Regions from separate parts of the Homo sapiens genome. Here regions 2, 3, 4, 5 and 6 are each reported to be linked to region 1. The links are microRNA targets in miRTarBase. Many come from high-throughput screens and were not tested one by one. Region 1 holds a microRNA gene; each other region holds the end of a gene's coding sequence.
The links. The annotated mature microRNA hsa-miR-6754-3p reads UCUUCACCUGCCUCUGCCUGCA and lies in region 1 at 1,708-1,729, shown strand. An mRNA with a match to its seed (bases 2 to 7 or 8) in the 3' UTR can be bound and repressed. Matches are read on the target gene's strand: a 7mer-m8 pairs with bases 2 to 8, a 7mer-A1 pairs with bases 2 to 7 and ends in A, and an 8mer does both.

Region 1 (3,691 bases):
AAAGCAAAAAGGAAACGGAGTTCCTTGCAGATCTGAGTGGTGCATCTCGTAACAGCCTATTGGAAGTCAAATGCGTGAACTGTCTGTTTTGAAGATTCCGCCTCTTGGTGGAGCTTCTTGGGACACCTTGCACTAAAGTTGGTATTAAACCCTCCTCCTGATTTCTCGAATTGAGAGCATCATTTTATTCCAGGGATGATACTGGTTTGTCATTGTGTTTCGGGTTAATGCCACACGATTTTTCTGATTCAGTAACAGCGATCAGGAATTCCACCTGGATTTCTCCATGAGGCAACGTGGCCAGTTCTCAGCAAATCCCCTGTGACACATCTCTCAGTAAAGATGAACATGAGCGTGTGGGGAAACTGAGGCAGCCCGAAGCTCGGAGAGCCCAGCCCACCACCATGTCACATAGTCTCCTCAAGCCACCTTCATACTCTTTTCTTTTTACCTGAATGCGATTGTTTATTGCATTGGGGGGAACGCTTGGCAGTTCCTTTGCCAGTTCATCAGTTCGGAGGGTTCAGTTTGAGTTTTGTTTAAATGTAGCCGCCATTCCTCATTTGTCCTGAGATGCTCATCCTCAGCTCCTCGGTGTTTTCCTCTCCAGGCACACAGAGGAGTACTTTCTGCCTCGGATGATACAGGACCTGACAAAGCAGGTGAGTCCCTGGGTGTGGAGCCCGTTTTTCAGTCGGTTGTCGCTGTTCTCGGCCAACAGTGGACCAGGTGGGGCGGGAACGCTTTGGGATCCAGGTAATGGAAGGCACCACAGTGCTCACAGGTCTGAAACAGACAAAGGAGGCAGGTTCCTATAGTGAGGGGGGCTGCGTGGCCAGACAGCAGCCAGGGTGGCTCCTCCTTGCCTTGGGGCTGCTTTTCCTCCCTTCCCCCACTCACACTGGCTTCCTCCTCTTCATTTCCTCCTTGTGGCAGAAGACAGCCTTCTCCATCCCCAGGGGCTATGTTCTGACATTTAAGTGTTATCTAGACCAACAGCAAAATGCCCTACTCTCAATTTTGAATTCTAAGGGAAGGCACCCTGGTGTCCCCTCTCAGCCACTGCCTTGTGGCTGGGAGTGGGGGCCTAGCTTCATCAGCACAGGGCAGCAGCTGCTTCAGTGTGATCACAGGACAGGGTCGCTTCAGAAGCTGCTGGCCCCAATTGGCAGCCCCATCGATGTCCGTGACATTCTGCCCCTTGGCTGCTCAGAGTACAGGCGTCCCCTTCTTCCACACATAGGCTCCTAAGGGCGTCTCTGCCTGGCACCACCCGGTGTCCCATGCGCAGCCGCAGGGCACCCACCTCTTCGGAATGTGCGAGAGCCCAGAGCCAACTCCAGCTCTTGTGGCTGCAGGATGTCCGTGGCCCTAGGTAGTGCGTGGCCCAGACAGGGCATGGCTAGTGAATCTCATGCACTCTTCTCTTCCGACTGCAGGAAACCGTACCCTTCGGAGATGCGGTGCTGGTGACATGGGACACCTGCATTGGAAGTGAGATCTGTGAGGAGCTCTGGACACCCCACAGGTCAGCCCCATGCCCCTGTGCTGTCTGATCGCCCACCTCATATGGGCCAGCTGGGAGGACCTGGGACTGCAGACGTCCTGGGGCCGTGGCCGTGGCCGTGGCCGTGGGCTGGGAGCTGCCGTGGGAGAGTGCAAGGGGCTGCCAGGGAGGCTGGTTTGGAGGAGTCTGGTGGCCTGTTCTCTTCACCTGCCTCTGCCTGCAGCCCGCACATCGACATGGGCCTGGATGGCGTGGAGATCATCACCAACGCCTCGGGCAGCCACCAAGTGCTGCGCAAAGCCAACACCAGGGTGGATCTCGTGACTATGGTCACCAGCAAGGTAGGGGCTGGGCCAGGGAGCGTGCGCCACAGGGCAGACACTGTATCTCAAGAACTCCTGCATCCTCAGTGCCCATCGCAGGGCTGGGCCCACACACAATGGATGTTCCAGGCTAGTAATTATGGCCTGGACTCAACAAGTGTGCCCTGCTGCCCTCCAGGGCTTCGCCGGCACAGCCCATCTCACCCACGCAGCCACCCTATGAAGCAACCCTGTCACCCTCTCTGCCATGACCAGGAACCGGAACGTGCTCCTTGTTCGTTGGCATCATGGTGAGGCGTAGGGAACACCCGTACGTTTGCTGCTCCTGCTGTTGGGCAGTGAGACGTGCGAGGGGCAGTGCTGGTTCATCCTTCACGGGGCAGATGTGGGTCTAGCTGAGCCGCGTTTGAGTCTTGGCTTCATCATGCAGAGCTTTCTTTGGCTTGTCTGAACCTCATCATGCCTGAGGGAGGTGATGGGGTCTGCCTTGTAGGGTTGTTGTGAAGGAAAAACAAATGTTTTGTGTAGAGCCTGGCACCTAGCAAGGCGGGGCTCGCCGCAGCTTCACAGGTCTGTGCTTCCCCACACATATGCGTTATCTCTGCGGTGGTGGGACCACTCAGGATGACCTAGCGGGACTCGGCGGAGGTTCCTGTACTTGGGCAGGTGGCAGGTGAGGGTGGTGGACACAGCTGACCACTCCGCTATGGGGTCCTCCTTTTTCAGAACGGTGGGATTTACTTGCTGGCCAACCAGAAGGGTTGTGACGGGGACCGCCTGTACTACGACGGCTGTGCCATGATTGCCATGAACGGAAGCGTCTTTGCTCAAGGATCCCAGTTTTCTCTGGATGACGTGGTAATGAGCGGGCCTGGACATGCCTGGGGGAGGGTTCTCTGTGCAGAGACCGAGCTCCTGGCTCTCCCCTGTAAGCCGGGTGCTTAGTGAGGGCCCCTGTGGAGAAGCCCCCGGGGGTCCCGCCTGCTCCTGGCTCTCCCCTGTAAGCCGGGCGCTTAGTGAGGGCCCCTGTGGAGAAGCCCCCGGGGGTCCCGCCTGCTCCTGGCTCTCCCCTGTAAGCCGGGTGCTTAGTGAGGGCCCCTGTGGAGAAGCCCCCAGGGGTCCCGCCTGCTCTGATGGCCTCAAATTTACCTGGTTGGTGAGGGGGGACCTCCCGCCCTCGGGTCTGGAGACAGCTGAACCCCGACACACAGCACATAGTAGTGGACGGATGAGGTTGAGGGCAGCTTACGAGTCCTGCGTTCCCACAGTGCGGGAGGAGGGCTCCGTGCCACGCAGGGCCAGGTGGGAGTGTGCTCAGGAACAGAGGGGACGGCCCCCGCTGTGGGAGGCGGGCTCTGTGGTGATGAGAGGATGGGTGCCGCCTGGCCCCTGCGGGTGGGTGTCGTTGGTTTGTTTGAATTCCGAGGGCTGGCAGGGAACCAAAGCCACTCCTTTGAAATTAGCAGGCTCCATGGCCCCTGAGACAGGTCCAGGGATCCCATGTATGGTGAGGCCGTTCAAGGCCCTGTCTGTCTTCCTTGGGTGTTGAGGCCACATATACTCATCTGAGGCCTTATGCCACGCTGCCCCTGAGTCCTGGGAAGCAGAAGTGGAGACCCCAGGACACTCTGGTCAGGGAGGCTTTGTTCTGTGGGGATCTCTGAGCACACAGCGGCCAGCTGCGTGAGGGAGGGCCCTGGGGGAGCTGTGAGTTACAGGTCGGAAGCGCCATTGCTATCCCGAAGCGACACAGATATGTGGGTGCTCCGAGGAAGGAGATGACAGAGAACAAAGCTAAGAACCCTGCTTGGCACATTCCTCACCAGCAACTGAGCTGCCGCTTGGAATGGGGTTCAGGACC
Region 2 (3,691 bases), not on the chromosome of region 1:
CTCCCCGCACCCCACTCCTACCTGGATTCTTCCCAGTCGGAGCTATTTCACGTCCACACACCCTTCCCGATTTCTGTAGCCTGGGATTCAGGAATCCAAGGCTTCCCCCACCTCAGCAGGGCTCATCTGTATTGTGGTTATGGGTTTCCAGGTCACAGCTCCAGCTCTGATTCCATCCTCGGCCCTGGGAGAGTTTAACTTTTCTGGATCCGCTTCTTCCCCCGGGAAATGGACAGTGTGACAGTACCTGCCTCAAGGGGCACATGAGACAGCTCTGCCTGAGAGTGAGCAAGGTGGGGCTGGGTCCCCCCTAACGCCCAGACCCCCATGGAGAACCCCTTCCCAGCCCACCTCAGTACCTGGAAGCTGAGTACCCCTATGCCTTGCAGTGCCTCTCTTCTGGAGTGACAGGATGAGGGTGGGGGCTTCACAGGAACCAGGGCCTGGCATGCAGCCTTCATGTTTTCCCACACCTTAGGTCATCTGCACCTTGGTTACACCAGTGGGCCTGATGTCCTTGAAAAATATCATAGACGGGTAGGTGCGGTGGCTCACACCTGTAATCCCAGCACTTAGGGAGGCTGAGGCAGATGGATCACCTGAGGTCAGGAGTTTGAGACCAGCCTGGCCAACATGGTGAAACCCCGTCTCTACTAAAAATACAAAAATTAGCCGGGCGTGATGGTGGGTGCCTGTAATCCCAGCTACTTGGGAGACTGAGGCAGGAGAATCGCTTGAACCCAGGAGGTGGATGTTGCAGTGAGCCGAGATTGTGCCACTGCACTCCAGCTTGGGCAACAAAGCAAGACTCCGTCTCAAAAAAAAAAAAAAAAAAAGAAAATACCATGGAGGGCCAGGTGCGGTGGCTCACGCCTGTAATCCCAGCACTTTGGGAGGGTGAGGTGGATGGATCACTGGAGGTCAGGAGTTTGGAGAGCAGCCTGGCCAACATGGTGAAACCCTGTCTCTATCAAAAAACACAAAAATTAGCTGGGCTTGGTTGTGCGTGCCTGTAATCCCAGCTACTCGGGAGGCTGAGGCAGGAGAATCGCTTGAACCCGAGAGGTGGAGGCTGCAGTGGGCCGAGATCGCGCCACTGCACTCCAGCCTGGGTGACAGAGCGAGACCGTGTTTCAAGAAAAAAACCCACAACAAACAATGGAGACCAAACCCAGGGCCCATCAAAGGGGCCTCTAGAGGCTGGCAGGGCAGAGTCTAAATCCCAGCCATGCCCCTCCCAACTGTGTGGCCTTGGAGAAGCCCCTCAACCTCTGGCATGTGCTGTCTGAACTTGGGTTCTTCACGGTGCCCCAACCAATACCAGCCAGCCAGTTCCCACGACTCCCATCCGATGGCAGCCTGGGAGCCCATCTGTTCCTGTCCTGCTGGGCCCACCAGGAACTGGCCACCTCTGCTGGATGGGTGGCTGCTGCAGCTGACATTTAGGCTCCAGAGGCTGGGCACTGAATCAGGGAGGCCAGAGAGGGCTGCCAGGACAGCAGGCGCTCCTGGCCAAGTGAGGCTCTGCTGGGAGCTCCCTGTTTGGTGGAGGATCAAGACAGAACTTTGAGGACAGTGTTCCACCCATATTCTGCACCCTTCTTGGCTGAGGCCACAGGGCAGACCCCCACCCACCGGCCCTGTTCTTCCAAGCCCGATCCCATATGAGCAGGCGTCCCATGCACACACTTCTCAGGCACTTTTTATTTCATGCTGTGCGGGGGCCCCTTGTCCCAGATTTGTGGCCACGTGTCCAGGTGTCTGGGGGAGTGGGCCAAGCCTGAGAGAGGAGGGCCCTGCTCCAGAGATCCCCAGGTTGTCCCTGTTGACCTATAGGGAGGTCTGACTTCAGGCGTTGCCCTCCTGACCCGTGAGCAGTCCTGAGTCGCTGGCTCCTATTCTGTCACACGGGGTGGGTAGTGCCAAAAGCAGCCTCCTGCAGCCCTTGGCGTCCGGAAGAGTGACAGCCACATTCAAGTCTCCCTGGCACGTGAGGTCCATGGTGCCCCTGACTCATGTCCTGGCTCCAGCCAATAGCCCAGACCCCCATGGAAGGTTCCAGCATGTGCAAAAATGCACATTGGCCAGGTGGCTGCCCCCCGGAGACATGTGTCAGAGAGGCACGGGTCAGGTGACCCAAGTGTCCAAAACTCTCATGGAGGGTCCCAGCCCATTGGCCACCCCAAGCCAACCACAGCAGGGTCTGAGCCTCAGACGCGCAGTGGCCTAGTGGCTTCTGCTCTGACAGCTCACGTCCAGGTTATAAGGGAGACGGGCAGCGTTAATAGAAAACTTTGTACATACACATATAAAAAACCATTTGGTCTTCCATTAAGGCTGTTACAGTTTAAAGTTACGTAAACCACGTACAAAGAAACAGTTAAACGTACAAAAAGGGGAGTGGGGAGATGTGAGGCCGCAGGTGGAGATGTGGTGCTCCCCACAGGTGCGTCCATGATTTGGGGGCTGCGTGCGAGGGGGCCTGGCTCCAGCCGGCCTCTCCCTGCCTTGACTCTGCACTTGGGGCCGGTGCCCACCTCACGTCACTCTTGAGCTTTTGATTCTGGATCCTTCTCTGAGGGCCGAACACTAGCTCTGCAGCTCTGGCGCCCAGCTCCAGTGCAGGGGCCGTCCTCGGACATGCAGACTTTGTCAGCTGTGGCTCTCAGCCATTGGTCTGGCCCGAGGCGGGGGGCAGGCAGTACGTTGGGGGATCCGAGTACCTCCGCTTGGCCCCAGGTGGCTGGCCATCCTCTTCTAGGGGCTCCAGGGCGCCCTGCACTGGCAGGTCTGCCCCGGGCGTGATGTACACGGAATGTATCTGGTCCGGGCGGCGGGCAGGTGGCTCCCGGCGCCGCACTGGGGCAGCCGCCTCCCGGGCACCCGGTGCCCAGCGAGGCAGGTGGGAGGGCAGGCCTGGTGGGAGCTTGATGTTGGCCGTGGGCATGATGGGGGTCCGCCGGGGGGTCTTCACTCTGACCGTTACGAAGGACGACGGCCTTCGTCGTGGAGGGGCGGCCACGGTGGGGAGGGGGCTCGGGGTGGGCGCGCCGGGGCAAGGGAGAGCAGGCGCAGGGGGCCCTTTTGAGAGACAGATGGCAGGGTTACTGCAGCTTCAGGGCCGGCAGCCGGAGGACCCTCGCCCTGGGGCCTGCTGGGATGGACGGGAAGGAGAAAAGCAGACGCTACCTTAATACTGACCTTCCGAGGCCCCCCGCCCGGCCCGCTCCTCCAGCAGGCTCTCGGTGCTGGCCGACGTCTCCGAGTCCAGGTTCTCCTCGTCCGAGCCCCTTGGGTCCAGCTCCGGCAGCCGGTAGGTGATGTCCTCCCTGGAGGAAAAAGGGTAGTGGTGTCCAAGGCCACCCCACCGGAAGTGCTGGGCCAGTGTGGAACAGAGCAGGCTGTCCTGCTCCTAGATGTAACTCTGTGTCCCCAACCTCCCCCCACCCCAAGCAGGAGGATTGCTTGAGCCCAGGAGTTTGAACCCAGCCTGGGCAACATAGGCGGACCCTGTTCTGCAAAAAGTAAAAAAAATTAGCCAGGCGTGGTGGTGTGCACCACCTGTGGTTCCGGCTACTGGGGAGGCTGAGGTGGGAGGACCCCGTGAGCCTAGGGGATTGTGGCTGCAGTGAACCGTGATCGCACCACTGCAATCCAGCCTGGGTGACAGAGAAAGACCCTGTCTCAGAAA
Region 3 (3,000 bases), not on the chromosome of region 1:
TTCATAATCATTCAAAAACATCAGGCCGGGCACGGTGGCTCACGCCTGTAATCCCAGCACTTCGGGAGGCCAAGGTGGGCGGATCACCTGAGGTCGGGAGTTCAAGACCAGCCTTTGGAGAAACCCCATCTCTACTAAAAATACAAAATTAGCCAGGCGTGGTGGCTCACACCTGTAATCCTAGCACTTTGGGAGGCCGAAGCAGGTGGATCACCTGAGGTCAGGAATTCAAGACCAGCCTGGCCAACATGGTGCAACTCCGTCTCTACTAAAAATACAAAATTAGCCGGGCATGGTGGCGCATGCCTGTAATCCCAGCTACTCAAGAGGCTGAGGCAGGAGAACCACTTGAACCTGTGAGGCAGAGGTTGCAGTGAGCCAAGATTGTGCCATTGCACTGCAGCCTGGGCAACAAGAACAAAACTCCGTCTCAAAAAAAAAAAAAAATCATTAGTAGCGTTCTCTGTCAGTTTATTGTGGAAAGAAATCAAGTAAACAAATTCTCAAAAAGATTTGCTTCAAATAAGAGAACACTGTTTAGGTGGAAGATCTCCTTTTTCAGCACGGTCTTCCCAAGGTAACAAGGGGGTTGGGATTGACTTGGGTGTGTCTGACATAATTGAGAAAGAAATTTAGTCTGCAGGTTAAAAGTGAAGCTGAAATCCAGGAGTTAATGTTTTCCTCAATGGCTTATAAAAAAATTGAAGAGTGACACAGTTTTCTCATTTTAAAAGTGGCTAATTTCTAATGCTAATACTGGTTATGCAGAGTATTAAAATTTCTGATAAATGTTTTAGTAAAAACTAATTCTCTCCATGTCTGTGCATATATTATTTAATAATATGATCCTTAAATGTATGTGATCCAACCAATCTGTGGCAAATCATAACCTCCAAGACTATATACAGATTAGAACTACGTACAGATTATGTAAAATTTACTCTTGTGACACATGAGTTATTTTAATTGAATTTAAGTTGCCACCCCAATTAAAAATTATTTCATATTTTAAAGATAAGATTTTAGAAATATCTTCTACAGAATATTAGTATCTGACTAGGAATGTAAGTCCATTATGTTTCATGTACAGCTTCCTCACTCCTATCTGGACTTTTTAACTTTCAGAAGTTTAAGGAAATAAATAGCACGAATGATAGAATGAACACAAATATTACCACCACCCAGAATTAATATTTCGTTATGTTTACTTAGAATGTTTCTTTTTAATAAGAAATAGATACAAAATTGAAGTATCCTTTAACTACCATGCTTGGTAACATTTCCCTTCCACCTCCTTTCTTCCTAGAGGTAACCACTCCACTTTTGGGAACTGAGTATATACATATCCTTTCAATCCATTCTTTAGTTTTACATAATTTATCCATAACCAATTCTTAGTACTAGGGCTGGTTAGTGTTGATTTTATTCAAATTCACAGAAGCATCATTACAATATGTTCATCATTTTTCTTCACTCTAATTTTTTAAAAATATTTCTGTTAATATATAGACTTAATTTGTCACTTAACTGCTAGAGAGTACTCTACTATGTTACTATCACATTTTATTCATCTATTTCACAAGAGACAGCATTTGTTTCCCAACTTCTGGCTACTATAACTCATGGTGCAATGAACTATACAGCTATAGACCAGTACATGACTCCCTGTGTTCATGTTTCTTGGGTAGATGCATATATATAGTAGTTCCCCCTTATCCACAGCTTTGCTTTCCATGGTTTCAGTTACCTGTAGTCACCACAGTTCATAAATAGTTGAGAACAGTACAATAAGGTATTCTGAGAGAAAGATCATATTCACATAACTTTTATGATTACAGTATATTGTTATAATTGTTCCATATTATGTTTATTATTGTTTTAAATCTCTTGCTGTGTCTAATCTGTAAACTAAATTTTATCATAGGTATGTATATATAAGAAAAAAACATAGACATAGAGTTTGGTCCTATCTGGGTTTTAGGTATCCACTGGGGGTCTTAGAGTCCATCTCTTGCAGAAAATAGGGGACTACCATACTCAAGAGTGGAACTACCGGGTATTCTGGAATGTTTTAGAAGTTCTTTCCTGCCCTAAGGTTTTAAAAACATCTTCTTATAAAACTGTTATATTATTAAGTATTGCTTTTTGCATTTTAGTCTTTAGTACTTTAAGAATTCATAAGAAAAATATTTTATATTATGATGGGAGATATTATTTTTCCATATGAAGAGTCAATTAATTTTTAAGTAATCCATGATTTCCCCACCAATCTGGGATACCGCCTCTATCAATTACCAATTCCCCATATATTCATGCACACATTTCTGAATTCAATATTCTGTCTCAGTCTCAGTTTTATGACTGCTTCAACAACAAATAATTTTGATGATTCTAGTTTTACAATTCATATATGTAGCAAAACATCACAAAAATGATAATTTTGTCTCTTAATTTCAAATCCTCATACATCTCATATCTATTTCTTAATGCATCTGTAGGCCTTCCAGGAACACATTAAGTAGTGTCCATGACTAGATCCTAACTTTAATGAGTATACTCCTAGAAGTACAGCATTGATAATGCTTGTTGTGGGAGTTTTGGGGGTACGGGTTTTCTTTACACTATAATACTTATTAAACATCATAGTATTTAAGTTTTGAATTGCTGCTGAAGGACTTCCCACATTCATGTCACTTTAATGTAAAATGAATTTTCCAATACACTATTAAGTGTAAAATCTGCTGAACGTTTTGCTAAATCCAAGGCATTCATAGAGAACTTTAATGAGTATGAATTCTCTGGTGTCTAATGTGATGTGACTTTTGGCTGAAAGCTTTCCCACATTCACTACACTGATAAGGTTTTTCACCAGTATGGATTCTCATGTGCAGAGCAAGGGTTGAGAACTGAGAAAAGGCTTTCCCACATTCATTACAACCATAGGGTTTCTCACCTGTATGGCTTCTCATATGCACAGTAAGAGATGAGCTTTGACAGAAG
Region 4 (3,691 bases), not on the chromosome of region 1:
TGCATATAGCGGAGCACACCCTTTAAACCTATGGGAATTGAAAGTGGTAGTTCCCACCCTATATGGCTGGCACAGGCCTCCCTCAAACACCTAAGGTACAGCTGTGAACATTCCCCTTTTTCTTTTAGGGTAGGGAAGGTGGAGAGCACCCCATATCCAGCATAGAACGCAACAGACTGTCTTCCTCCGGTGATTTTTCTTTCCCCTTTACTTAACTTACCAGAGCTGGGAAAAAATGAGTTTCCCCAAATTAAATCAAAAGCACAAGAAAGGCCGGAGCGGCTGGTATTCTGAGGTCAGATGTAGGCTGCAGGGAGAGAACTTGATCAGGGCCAGTGCAGGGAGCCCGAGCACTGAGAACCCGGCCTGGGAGCGCAGGAAGGCGGGTGGTGAGCAATTCTACGGGTGTCCCGAGGGTATGAGGGGCGGTGCTGCTGGGAAGCCGAGCGGGGCATCCTGAGGTCAGGGCGCCAGAGGCTGCAGAACCCTGGAGGGTGTGGCTGCAGGGGACGCCCGGGCGGGACAAGGCAGGTAGGAGAAGAACCCAGAGGTGTGGGAAGAGGGTGTCTCCGAGTCAGGGCGCAGCACGGAAGTAACTCTGGGGTAGAAGGCGAGGGCGGGGCGGGGGAAATAAACTCCACAGAGACAATAACCTGCTGCTGCCCCCCAACACCGACTCAAAACAGCGAAACTCCTGGCCGCCGCCCTCCCCTGCAGCGCAGGCCCCAGTTACCCAACTCCTCCCCTGCGCTCCGGCGCAGAGCGGCGCAATCTGCCCGCCCCGCCCGCAGCCTCCCCTTCCAGGCCCCGGGAGCATTCCCACCCCGACACTCACACACCGGCAAACAGGAACACACAGTCAGGCTCCGGCCCGGAGTCCTCGGCCTCCCGGGAGGGGCACCCGACATCCCGCACGCCTGGTGCCGGAAGGGGAGAGCGTTTCCAATCTCCTGGACGACAGAACCAGAGAAAGCCGTGTCCCAGCCCTCTCTCCACAGTTCTATTTGATTTTACTACCTTCCTCTCTTTCCTTCTCATTCACTTTTCAATTGTCTTGCAACTTGTTTTCCAGGCAGTTTCTCTTTTTCTCTATCCTCCCCAAACTTCTTGTCCCTCCCCATCTCGTCGCTTGTTTTTTCTCTTCCTCTTCGCCCACTTTTTTTCTGCCTCTTCCCAAATTCCACGCTTTGGGCTTCGCGTCTGTCGCTCAACTTCCTTTTTCTGCACCCCGCGATCCATCCAAAATGTTCTTCCTGTCCCTGGGATTGGGCAGCCTCAGCCTGGCCCCTTTCAGTCGCGGGAGCCCCTGGCCTCTCCAACAGGAGAGAGAGAAGGTAGGGAGAAGTGGATGGGACCCCCGGCGCCCGGGAGCCGGGCAGAGAGCGCCCCGAAGCGCGCATTTCTCTTCGCCAGCGCCCGGGCTGCGCGGGCCCACGCGACATCTGTCGCCTGCGGTCCCGGCTCACACCCCGCGCACCCCCGCAGCTCCCTGGGCGCTGCCACCCCCCACGCTCCGGCTGCCGCCTTTCCCCGCGGGCGCAGACGCTCGGGCCTCGCCTTCAGGCGCCGCTCCAACTTCCCAGGGTGTCTGCGGCGCGCGGCGGGGCTCGGGGGCGGGGACCTAAGGGCGGCTGGCTATGTCACCTTCGAGCTTCACCTTCCGGCCCTAGACCCATCTATGGTGGGCTCAGCCTGATTCTCTCTCCCTCATTCTCTGCAGCGCTCCTCGCTACTCCAGGATCCAGAGTAGTAAGACGATGCTTACGCTGTGTGCTTCCTCAAAGCGCCTAGCACAGTGCCAGGCGCACAGCTAGGGCACAATGATCCCCCCACCCCAAGAGCCTAGTACCTTCCTCCCACTGATACCAACCACACTAGGTGCTCAGTACCCACTTCCTGTCCTAAGTTCTCAACACATGACCTCCCTAAACAGTGCCCAGCACCCCGAAGGAGCTCAATAAATGTTCCTTCCTTAAGGCTTCCCATTGGAGTTTCCCTGAAAGCCCCCTATTCCAGCCCACTCCGAGGGCGTCTCCTTCCCGTAGCAGCTACAACCGTCTGGGGAGAAGGAAGCCAAACTCCTTAAACAGGACACCTCACTCGAGAAGGAGCGAAGTTGGCAGGGCAGAGGAAAATTGCAAATGCGCGGAGCTTGGGAAGAAAGATTGGGCCAGCCAGAAACCTGGAGGGGGAGGAAGTCTCGAGATGCGCTTGGGGTGCCAGATAATGGGGATCAGAGATTGGAGAAGTGACACTTAGGGACAAGAGGTTGGGAGCAAAGGTGATGGAGACGGGGGCGACTCAGGAACGGCAAGAGGATTGGAACGGGACCGGGGACCTTTCTTGGAAGTGCGATAGATTTTAAGTATTTGGCGTGGCTTACAACTACATTCCCATAGCAAGCACACTTTTTACTTGCATTGTGTGTTTATTTGTGGGGCTGGTGGGGATTATGGAGGCTGAAGTCCTCCGCAAGCCACTGAGCTATAAGTGAGTAGCAAGATGCGCTTAAGGACTCGCAGAGATGGGGGCAGAAACGGTGGACCTTACACTTGGAAGGGAAGACTGGGGACTGGGTAGAAGAGGAGAGGTGGAGATGCTTGCAAGAGAAGAGAACGGAGGAAGAAGGAGAAGGGAAAAGAAGAAAGCCAAACTTGCCACTCTCCCGCTCCCGGGCCAGCCCAGCGTCTCCAGTGCCCAGCTGCCGCGCCCCGGCTCTCGCTCGCTCGCTCGCGTACCTGTTGCTCGCTCCGGCTGGGTCTCGGCTCCGGCCCCACCAAGAAGCCCCGCGTTCCTACAAGTTCCGCCTGCCGAGCAGCCAGGCCGCCAGCGCCGCCACCTGCGCGGCCGCGCACAGCCAAGGCCAGTAGGTGGGGAGCGCGCCGGGCGCCGGCGCCCTCCGGCTCCGCGCGCGGCGCCGCCACATGGTGCGCTGGTGCAGCTCGTCGCCTAGCGCCTTGAGCCGGGCGGCGGTGAGCTGCGCGGCGGACGAGCGCAGCCCCAGGCGACCCGCGCTGCAGGCGCACACGGCCGGGGGGCCGCGGCCGCGGTGCAGGGGGCACGGGCACATGACCGCTGGCCTCGCTCCCGCCCCGCGCTCGGGCCGCCCCTCGCCTCCTCTCCCTCCGGCCTCTGCGCCCGCTGCCGCCGCGCTCCAGCCGCCGGGGGCCTCCCCTGGACACCAAGTTTCTCCTTGTGTTGTGCGTTTGTTGTGCTGACGGCGCTATTATTAATTAAAGTGTCACATGGTGGAGGGGGGCGGGGAGGGGGGTTACATCATCCGGCCCCCGGGGGTTGGGGGGGGGGCTGCAGGCAGAAGAAACCGAGAGGTAACTTTTAACCCTAGCGGCGCCGGCAGCTAGGGAGCGCGAGGTTTGGGAGACGGGGAGCGCGGCGCGGGGCGGCGCGAGAAGGCTCCCCGCAGCGGAGGTCCTGGGCTTTGGGGGTCTCGGGGGACCCCCGCGGAGGCGCGGAGCGCGAGGGAAGGTTGTTCTCCTTCCCCTTTTCCTGAATTCAGCTCGAGTTCCGATTTGGCGAGGGAAAAAGGCTTGTTTGCCGTTTTGGATGAAGCTGATGCTGAATTCGGCTGCATTATTCAAAAATATTCCGAGGCTGTTGTTTTGTTTGGGGGAGGTGGGTGGATTCAAAATCTTATGGAAGGGTCAGATTACACCCAACTTGCCTCGTTTCA
Region 5 (3,691 bases), not on the chromosome of region 1:
AGAGGAATCTCCCATGGCCACCCTGTCCTATGAGCTCACCAGCTCCACCCTGGAGATATTAACAGTGAACACTGTCAAGCAGACACCTAACCACATCCCCTCAACGATCATGGCAACCACCCAGCCTCCAGTAGAAACCACTGTTCCTGAGATCCAGGATAGCTTCCCATACCTGCTGTCTGAAGACTTCTTTGGACAGGAAGGCCCCGGGCCAGGTGCAAGTGAGGAGCTTCATCCCACCTTGGAGTCGTGTGTGGGGGACGGATGTCCTGGCCTCAGCAGAGGCCCTGTGATCGCCACCATTGTCACCGTCCTGTGCCTACTGCTGCTCCTGGCAGGTGTGGGGATGGTGTGGGGCTACCGCAAGTGCCAGCACAAGAGCTCTGTGTACAAGCTGAATGTTGGCCAGCGGCAGGCTCGGCACTACCACCAGCAGATCGAGATGGAGAAGGTCTAGGCACCTTTGGAGTGGGTTCTCCCAAAGCCACTTGGGAGGAAAATAACTGTGACACATCACACGATAATTCACTAGAGCATGACGCAGGTGGACTGAGGCTCATCATTTTTTCCTCAGCCCTTTGTTTTATAGGCTGAGAAGTGTCTCTGGAGCACCTGGGAGGGCAGGGAGGCTTTGGTGACATCATCACTCATGTCAATGTCTCCTCCACCATCTGCCCTGGAATTGACTACACTAATCCCAGACCTGTGCTTGGGCCCTGTTTCCAGTGTGAGGTCAAAAATCGCCTCTTCCTTCATCACAGTATTATCTTTTTTTTTTTGAGACAGAGTCTCATGCTGTTGCCCAGGCTGGAGTGCAGTGTCCCGATCTGAGCTCACTGCAACCTCTGCCTCCCAAGTTCAAGCAATTCTCCTGCCTCAGCCTCCCAAGTAGGTGGGATTACAGGCATGCACCACCATGCCCAGCTAATTTTTTTATATTTTTAGTAGAGATGGAGTTTCACCATGTTGGCCAGGCTGGTCAAGAACTCCTGACCTCAAGTGATCTGCCCTCCTTAGCCTCCCAAAGTGCTAGGATTCCAGGTGTGAGCCACATCACAGTATTACCTTTTTGAAGAAAGAAAATCACCAGCTTCATGCCCTGAAATTTTATAAATAGTCATGATAAACCAAGTGTATGAGAGCAGTATTATCTAGGACATGGATATTGAATTATTGGGAGAGGAATATGGAAGAATAATGGGTTGTTTCCTTTTAATGTTGTGATGTTGCTGAGGGCAGATGAACCAAGAGCCAGGACACAGTCTAGAAGCTTTGAGGTTTCTTTTTTCATTGTTTCTTGAAATTAGAATTTAAGACTGACATTTTGTTGGGGGAGTTGAGGAGTGAAGAAACACACATCCCCCTCTGTTCCCTCCATTCTGTGGGACAGTCTGTCATTTATTTTATTTTATTTTCAATATTTCATGGTTAAGGATTTGCCATTATTTTTTAAAAACAAAGTTAGCTTTGTACCAGTAAGTACCATTTCCTCTCAGAAGCAGTGGCCTAGTTGTCCTTGACCAGTCTGTGCCTAGGAATGTCTTGGAATTTTTGCCAGGACTAACAAAACTCAGTCCTTGGTTTCCTCTCTCAGGATTAACCATTTCTCTGAACTCCAGTAAGAGAGAATGACACGGGAGAAAAAAAAAAGAAATGTTTTCAGAGGGCCGAACACCAGGTTATCAAGTATGGGCACATACTTGATGGAGAAGCAGAAGAATCTGTGAAAGAATATGAAATGATCTGTGCTGATCTGTTCTCTAGTGTGGAAACTGGGAGCTCTGTGGAAACAGAATCCATCCTGTCTGTTGGGTAACCCATTTCGTAGCATCTAAATCATCTTAGGGTGGCTCAGCGAGGATGGTTTATGGCAGTGGTTCTCAAAGTGTGGTCCTCAGACCAGTAGCATCAGCGTCACCTGGGAATTTGTTGGAGATGCAAATTCTCTAGTCCCACCCTGGACTCAGGAAACAGGAACCCTGGGAGTAGGGCCCAGTTCTGTTTTTAACAAGCCCTCCAGGTGATTTTGATATGCACTCAAGTTTGAGAGCCTGTTGGTTTATAATAATCTCAAATGTGAACTTCGAGGCCAGCTGAAGCCCTAAAGGCACAGATGAGTATGTGGTGTGTGTTGTGTGGAAGTCAGGCATGGCTGTGTGCAGCTGAGGTGGCATTTGAAGCTGCCTAAATGCCACCTGCAATAGTCTCCTGTATGTTGGCACAGAAATGAAACATGTTATATTTTTCTAATATGAATCACCTTCTTAGAAATAGTTATCAGTGGTAAAAAGTGATGAATGCAACACATTTATTTTGAGACACCATAGCAGTCTAAGTGTTTTTGTGTGGTAGAGGGAAATCCTGATCTTTTTTATGATTGAAAAATTGTTGGTGGTGTTTTACCTAAGGAAAAAAAACATTCGCAACATGTTTTCTACCCTGCCACCTCTTTTCAGCAAGCTTTGGAAAAGTAATAGGCGAAGTAGCTGTAAAGAGAGGCAGCATAATCAAAGATCTTATTCCCCATAGTTGGGTAAAATAAAGCCTGAAGGTACCAACTAGAATACCTGTGCATCAGACGAAGTCAAGAACAATAGGAATAAAATGCTTTCTGCATGTAGCCAAAGCAAAACATAATAGAATAAAAGCCAGAGACTGTATATATTTATAAATTAGATCCTAATCTACTGCAAGATAACTTTTCTATTTTTAACTATATAAAATAACCTCTGTCTCAGCATTGGGACTGTGTTAGCAACTATTATTGTGGAATAACCCAGAACATTGGATTTATACCAACAAATAGGCAATATTAATACAGTGTATTAATAAATTTATTACAAATTATTAATACAGTGTATTAATAAATTTATTACAAATTATTAATACAGGTAAATGTTTTATTTGTAGACATGGACTGTGAAATAAACCCAACACATCAGTTTTTAAGTTCTTATTGGTGTGGTATCCTCTAAATTAATGTTATAGAATCTAAAAATTCATGTTGAAAGGGAATGATTAAAACAATGTAAATCTAAATTGTATGTCATGCATGTTTTGAGAATGGTGAATGTTTAATGCTCATGAAAATTGGGGGAGGGGGTTCTATTAACACAAAGCTTCTGAGATATTTAAAATAAATAATTATTGCCCCAACAGTTGCTGAATGTATTTTATTTCTAGGCTACTGCACCAAGGTTTAAAAAAAGAAAAAAATTCTCGCTGGGCACAGTGGCTCACACTGGTAATCCCAGCACTTTGGGAGGCTGAGGTAGGCAGATCACTTGAGGTCATGAGTTCGAGACCAGCCTGGCCAACATGGTGAAATCTTTTCTGTACTAAAAATACAAAAATTAGCCGGGCGTGATAGCATGCTTGTGGTACCAGCTACCCAGGAGGATCAGGCAGGAGAATTGCTTGAACCCGGGAGGCAGAGGTTGCAGTGAGCTGAGATCATGCCACTGCACTCCAGCGTGGGGGACAGAGCAAGGCTCCATTCAAAAAAAAAATCTCTAGTAATCTTGAAAATAATGTCTTAATACTTGCTATATCTAAGATCTAAGACTGCCCTTTCTAAACCTAACTCTCAGTTATGTTACCTCCTGCAGCAGGATTTTAGGGAAGTTGGTGGCACTCTTGCCCCCCCCTCCCTCCCTACTTCCCTCTTCCTTGCCCCGCCCCCCCCTACTTC
Region 6 (3,691 bases), not on the chromosome of region 1:
TACTGTGTCAAGGTGGGCAGAGAGAAAATAAGAAGAGGGAACACCCAACAGTTATTTCAAACAAAAAGTAGACACATCATCACATATTTCTTTTGTATACATTACTTAGTATTCACGACTTCTATGAAATCTGTAAAGAATAGTGACGTGACATGTAAACTTTTAAGTAGTAAAGTCTTGGACTTTAAAAGGTGTTTTTCACATCCAATATAACTTACTTTAAAACAAATTATTTCAGAAGATTATCTAAGTGTCACAAACAAGCAACATATATATACTGCAATTTTATTTCAATCGCACAAACGAAGTTAGCGTGTAGGAAACTTAAATGAAACAAATTTAAACGAAATAGTTACGGTAAAAATAGCAGAAAACTGAAAATTCTAAAAAGGAAGTACACCTAAAAGCATGAGAATTCAACATTCATTAGTGTTTCATCTTCAGTTTTGATTGACACTTGATGCTTGCAAATTTTTAAACAAACTTTTAAATCATGATGACTATTCTGAAGAGATTTCAGCACCAGCACTAAGATTTGTACATTCAGTTTGTTTGCAATTGACTTGTGAGCCATTTACATAGTGGATAGTACAGACTTGTCACAGGTCAGATCACAGTGTTGAGGAAAGCAGTGCCTTCCTGTCATTAGAAAGGATCCCCTAAACTGTACTCAGCTTAAGACATCCAACGTACAAGAGCACAAAAACCATCATAATAATGTGGTTCCAAGGAACGTGGTTTTGATAAGGTAAATAACTTAGGCTTCTGTTTCCCATTTTAATTACTGAAATCTCTAATAATGACACAACTGTCATGTATGATAGCAAATGTATATAATAATTCATTCAGACTTCTTGGAAAGAACATTTAGCAATCTGGGATGATGGGAAATATAGCATGATTCAACACTGGTTTTTTTTTTTTTTTTTTTTTGTCAGTTTACACATACATCATGTTAATATTAGACCAAGGCACAAAACGTTTAGTGCATAAACCCAGTTTCTTTTAAGATTTAGCATTTTATTTTAGTCTCTTATCTTAGTTTGGACCACTTGTACCCAGTACTCTACCTACTACAGACTATTTAACTTACCCAACAAAATCAAAAGAGGTTGCTGACCAGATTTATAGGGGACATAACTGTTTATATTATCAAAGTGTTTGCATAACCAAAAGTACAATAATAAAGATGAAAATGCCTCCTATTTCTTTTAGAAAATAATACTTAATAAGCTTGCTGCATCTTTGATGTTTTTACTACTACTGCATGACAATGAATATCTGATAGAAAAAAGAAATGTATACTTGAATTATGATAGCTCATCCATCACAGTTTAATCTAAAAATGAAATTTCTACAGAAACAGGAACTATTTTGACAAAGAAAAAAAAAATCCCTCATCCAAACTTCTTTGTAGTGGTAAAGGCTGCAAATTTGCAGCGTTTAGAAAACTACACTATCAACAAGCTTTGCTTTATGGACTGAGATGTACAAAATCTAGAAAGCAGATGAAAGTGAATTATTTCAAAGTTTTAGTAAAACTTCTGATAATCAGAGTTCAAAGCAAATATGGCACATAACAACTCAAGCATAAATCAAGATGGAGAGCCTGGAGAGTTTCTTAAATTTTCCAAAAAGCTATCATTCCAACATGTAGGATTTCTCCCCTATTTTAACCTTACCAGTTTCAAAGGAAAGAAAAGGGAGTGGCTTCCATATAGACAGCACGTGCGCGAGAGCACACACACGCAGAGTGGCAGGCAGAGTGTCTAATTCCTTCTTCCCACCTTCCTTCTTCCCACCACCCAAGTCTCACTTTACTTATTAAAAGAAAACTGCAGAACTCCTCATTGGTTTTCCTTTACCTAATGATTTCTGTGACCTTAATTGCTGCCATCATTGTTATTTCTTGCATTTCAACATAACAAAATTCAAAAGCAGCTTCATTCAGGAACACGTATCTAAACACCTGTGTAACAGCGGGGGTACCTAGGTAATAATAACTGCCAAATTCAGTGATCAAACTTTTGAGTTCCACAGTTAAGATATTATGTGAAGCTCAGAATCATGTTTCAGACCATTGAAATTACTGGTTAAAATACAAATAGCTGAAGACATGATGTAAAAGATTAAGTACTTGGTTTTGTAACATATTTACCAATTAAAGTCACAAAATATTTCTCATTATTTATTCATGCAGGTAACTGAGAAAAAGATAGTGCAGAAATCAACTTTAAATAAAAAATTATTCCTCCCCTTCCTCCCACTCCCCTATACTCTACAAAATGTTTTCCCTGGGACTAGGCCTTGAAAAGGCCACTACATATTAGTGTGACATGCATTACTGTCTGCAATTAAAAAAGCTAACCTTGTGGTGATTGTAATTACATTATAAAAATGTCCACATGCATAAATCTAAAAAAGGTTGAAAACCTACAGTAAATCTACAATATAGTGTTTACATTTGACCACTGGTTTGTGTTATGTAGAAGTCATAGATTTGGTAAAGCATTGTAACAATTTAGGAAGGCATCTAAATCTTTAAGTTCTGGACAAATTTTATGTTTTAATCTACAAAATTGCATGAAGGCTAACTCGAGAAACTTCCTATCATTCTAAAATTTCTCAAGCTGAAGAAACATTTTTCGGACACTTTCTTATAAATATTACCCTTTGAAAGCACTTACAATTCCATTTGTTCCACATATTATGATCTTAACTTACATAGGGCTGATCTCAATTATTCATGGAATATCAAACATGATAGGAAGAACAAACCTGAGAGAAACATTACAATACAATAGCAAACTTGCTCAATTCTTTACCAGCACTCTCTGCAAAAAAACTTCCTAAGCCTTTCTCCTCTTTATTTTAGCAATGTATTGTGGAAAATGTGCGACTTTATCTTGATATGAAAATATTTCAATGCGTGGTGATCTTGCCTGATGGGTTTTAGTATTTTCTGCATAACTGTTACAGGAACTCTTAAATGATTCTCTTCCATTCTGTTGTAAAGGCCAGAAAAAAGCAGCAAACGGAGAGGGAAAGAGCTTATCACCAGAGTCATAATGTCTGAAGGCTTTCAGAGTAGGTTGGTTTTTCCCTCCTTCTGTTTGTCTCCATTTTCTTCTTACAGCTCATAAATGTAGGGGTTTGCTGTTGTGAACAGTTGTTGTTTGTAGGATATTTTTCCTCCAGATTAAAGTCCTATCTCTCCTTAGTCTGTTCCTCTATGCAGTATTTGACTTGCTCAGTTCCTGCCTGATTGCTGGATGGAAAAGAACAAGTATTGAAAATAAATATAATGATAAAGTAAGATAAATGAGTGATTCATTCCTAAGAAACTTTAAGGATTGTGCTCAAACTCACAGTAATAAGAAGATTAACTTTGCATCTTTCATTGCACACATCTTTAATATTAGAAAGATGATACTAATTTCTATATATTTATTTTCTCCTTTTGTATACAAAATGAAAACACTGATTATGTGGGCTCAAAAACAAGAGGACACTGGGATAGGTGAGTAGAGGTAACCTAGAGAAAGATCTGTTCATGTGGTTTTCCATCTAAGAAAAGACAACACCTGAAACTTAGGGATATTGTTTAATCCCTATTTATAAAAATAATTTCCATTATATGAAGGAGAAACCTCCTCCCCAAAACCCTAATCCTAAAAGGGCAGGACTATGG

Region 2: the mRNA of MYO9B is a reported target of hsa-miR-6754-3p. The part of its 3' UTR that is shown has no 7-base or 8-base seed match.
Region 3: miRTarBase lists ZNF260 as a target of hsa-miR-6754-3p. Seed matches in the 3' UTR shown: 7mer-A1 at 1,468-1,474.
Region 4: miRTarBase lists HRK as a target of hsa-miR-6754-3p. The part of its 3' UTR that is shown has no 7-base or 8-base seed match.
Region 5: the mRNA of SUSD5 is a reported target of hsa-miR-6754-3p. Seed matches in the 3' UTR shown: 7mer-A1 at 1,344-1,350.
Region 6: the mRNA of ENAH is a reported target of hsa-miR-6754-3p. The part of its 3' UTR that is shown has no 7-base or 8-base seed match.

Annotation. Positions count from the first base shown.
Region 1 is chr11:71,471,839-71,475,529 of GRCh38, forward strand. It overlaps MIR6754 (microRNA 6754), which reads left to right and starts at 1,665; the gene lies at 1,665-1,730. NADSYN1 (NAD synthetase 1) reads left to right here. Exons shown (of 21, transcript NM_018161.5): 6 at 611-662; 7 at 1,440-1,528; 8 at 1,731-1,848; 9 at 2,557-2,688. RefSeq lists enhancers at 489-1,396, 1,397-2,303.
Region 2 is chr19:17,211,285-17,214,975 of GRCh38, reverse strand. MYO9B (myosin IXB) reads right to left here. Exons shown (of 40, transcript NM_004145.4): 39 at 3,202-3,329; 40 at 1,690-3,081. The coding sequence ends at 2,666. Among named protein-coding and RNA genes, the nearest start is that of USE1, 2.2 kb to the left of the region's middle.
Region 3 is chr19:36,511,220-36,514,219 of GRCh38, forward strand. ZNF260 (zinc finger protein 260) reads right to left here. Exons shown (of 3, transcript NM_001166037.2): 3 at 1-3,000. The coding sequence ends at 2,781. Among named protein-coding and RNA genes, the nearest start is that of ZNF260, 16 kb to the right of the region's middle.
Region 4 is chr12:116,878,238-116,881,928 of GRCh38, forward strand. HRK (harakiri, BCL2 interacting protein) reads right to left here and starts at 3,204. Exons shown (of 2, transcript NM_003806.4): 1 at 2,739-3,204. The coding sequence starts at 3,070. The coding sequence ends at 2,795. RefSeq lists silencers at 1,733-1,933, 2,812-2,891 and an enhancer at 3,397-3,691.
Region 5 is chr3:33,149,508-33,153,198 of GRCh38, reverse strand. It overlaps SUSD5 (sushi domain containing 5), which reads left to right. Exons shown (of 5, transcript NM_015551.2): 5 at 1-3,156. The coding sequence ends at 457. Among named protein-coding and RNA genes, the nearest start is that of CRTAP, 37 kb to the right of the region's middle. RefSeq lists an enhancer at 1-384.
Region 6 is chr1:225,494,545-225,498,235 of GRCh38, forward strand. It overlaps ENAH (ENAH actin regulator), which reads right to left. Exons shown (of 14, transcript NM_018212.6): 14 at 1-3,268. The coding sequence ends at 3,231. Among named protein-coding and RNA genes, the nearest start is that of LINC02765, 29 kb to the left of the region's middle.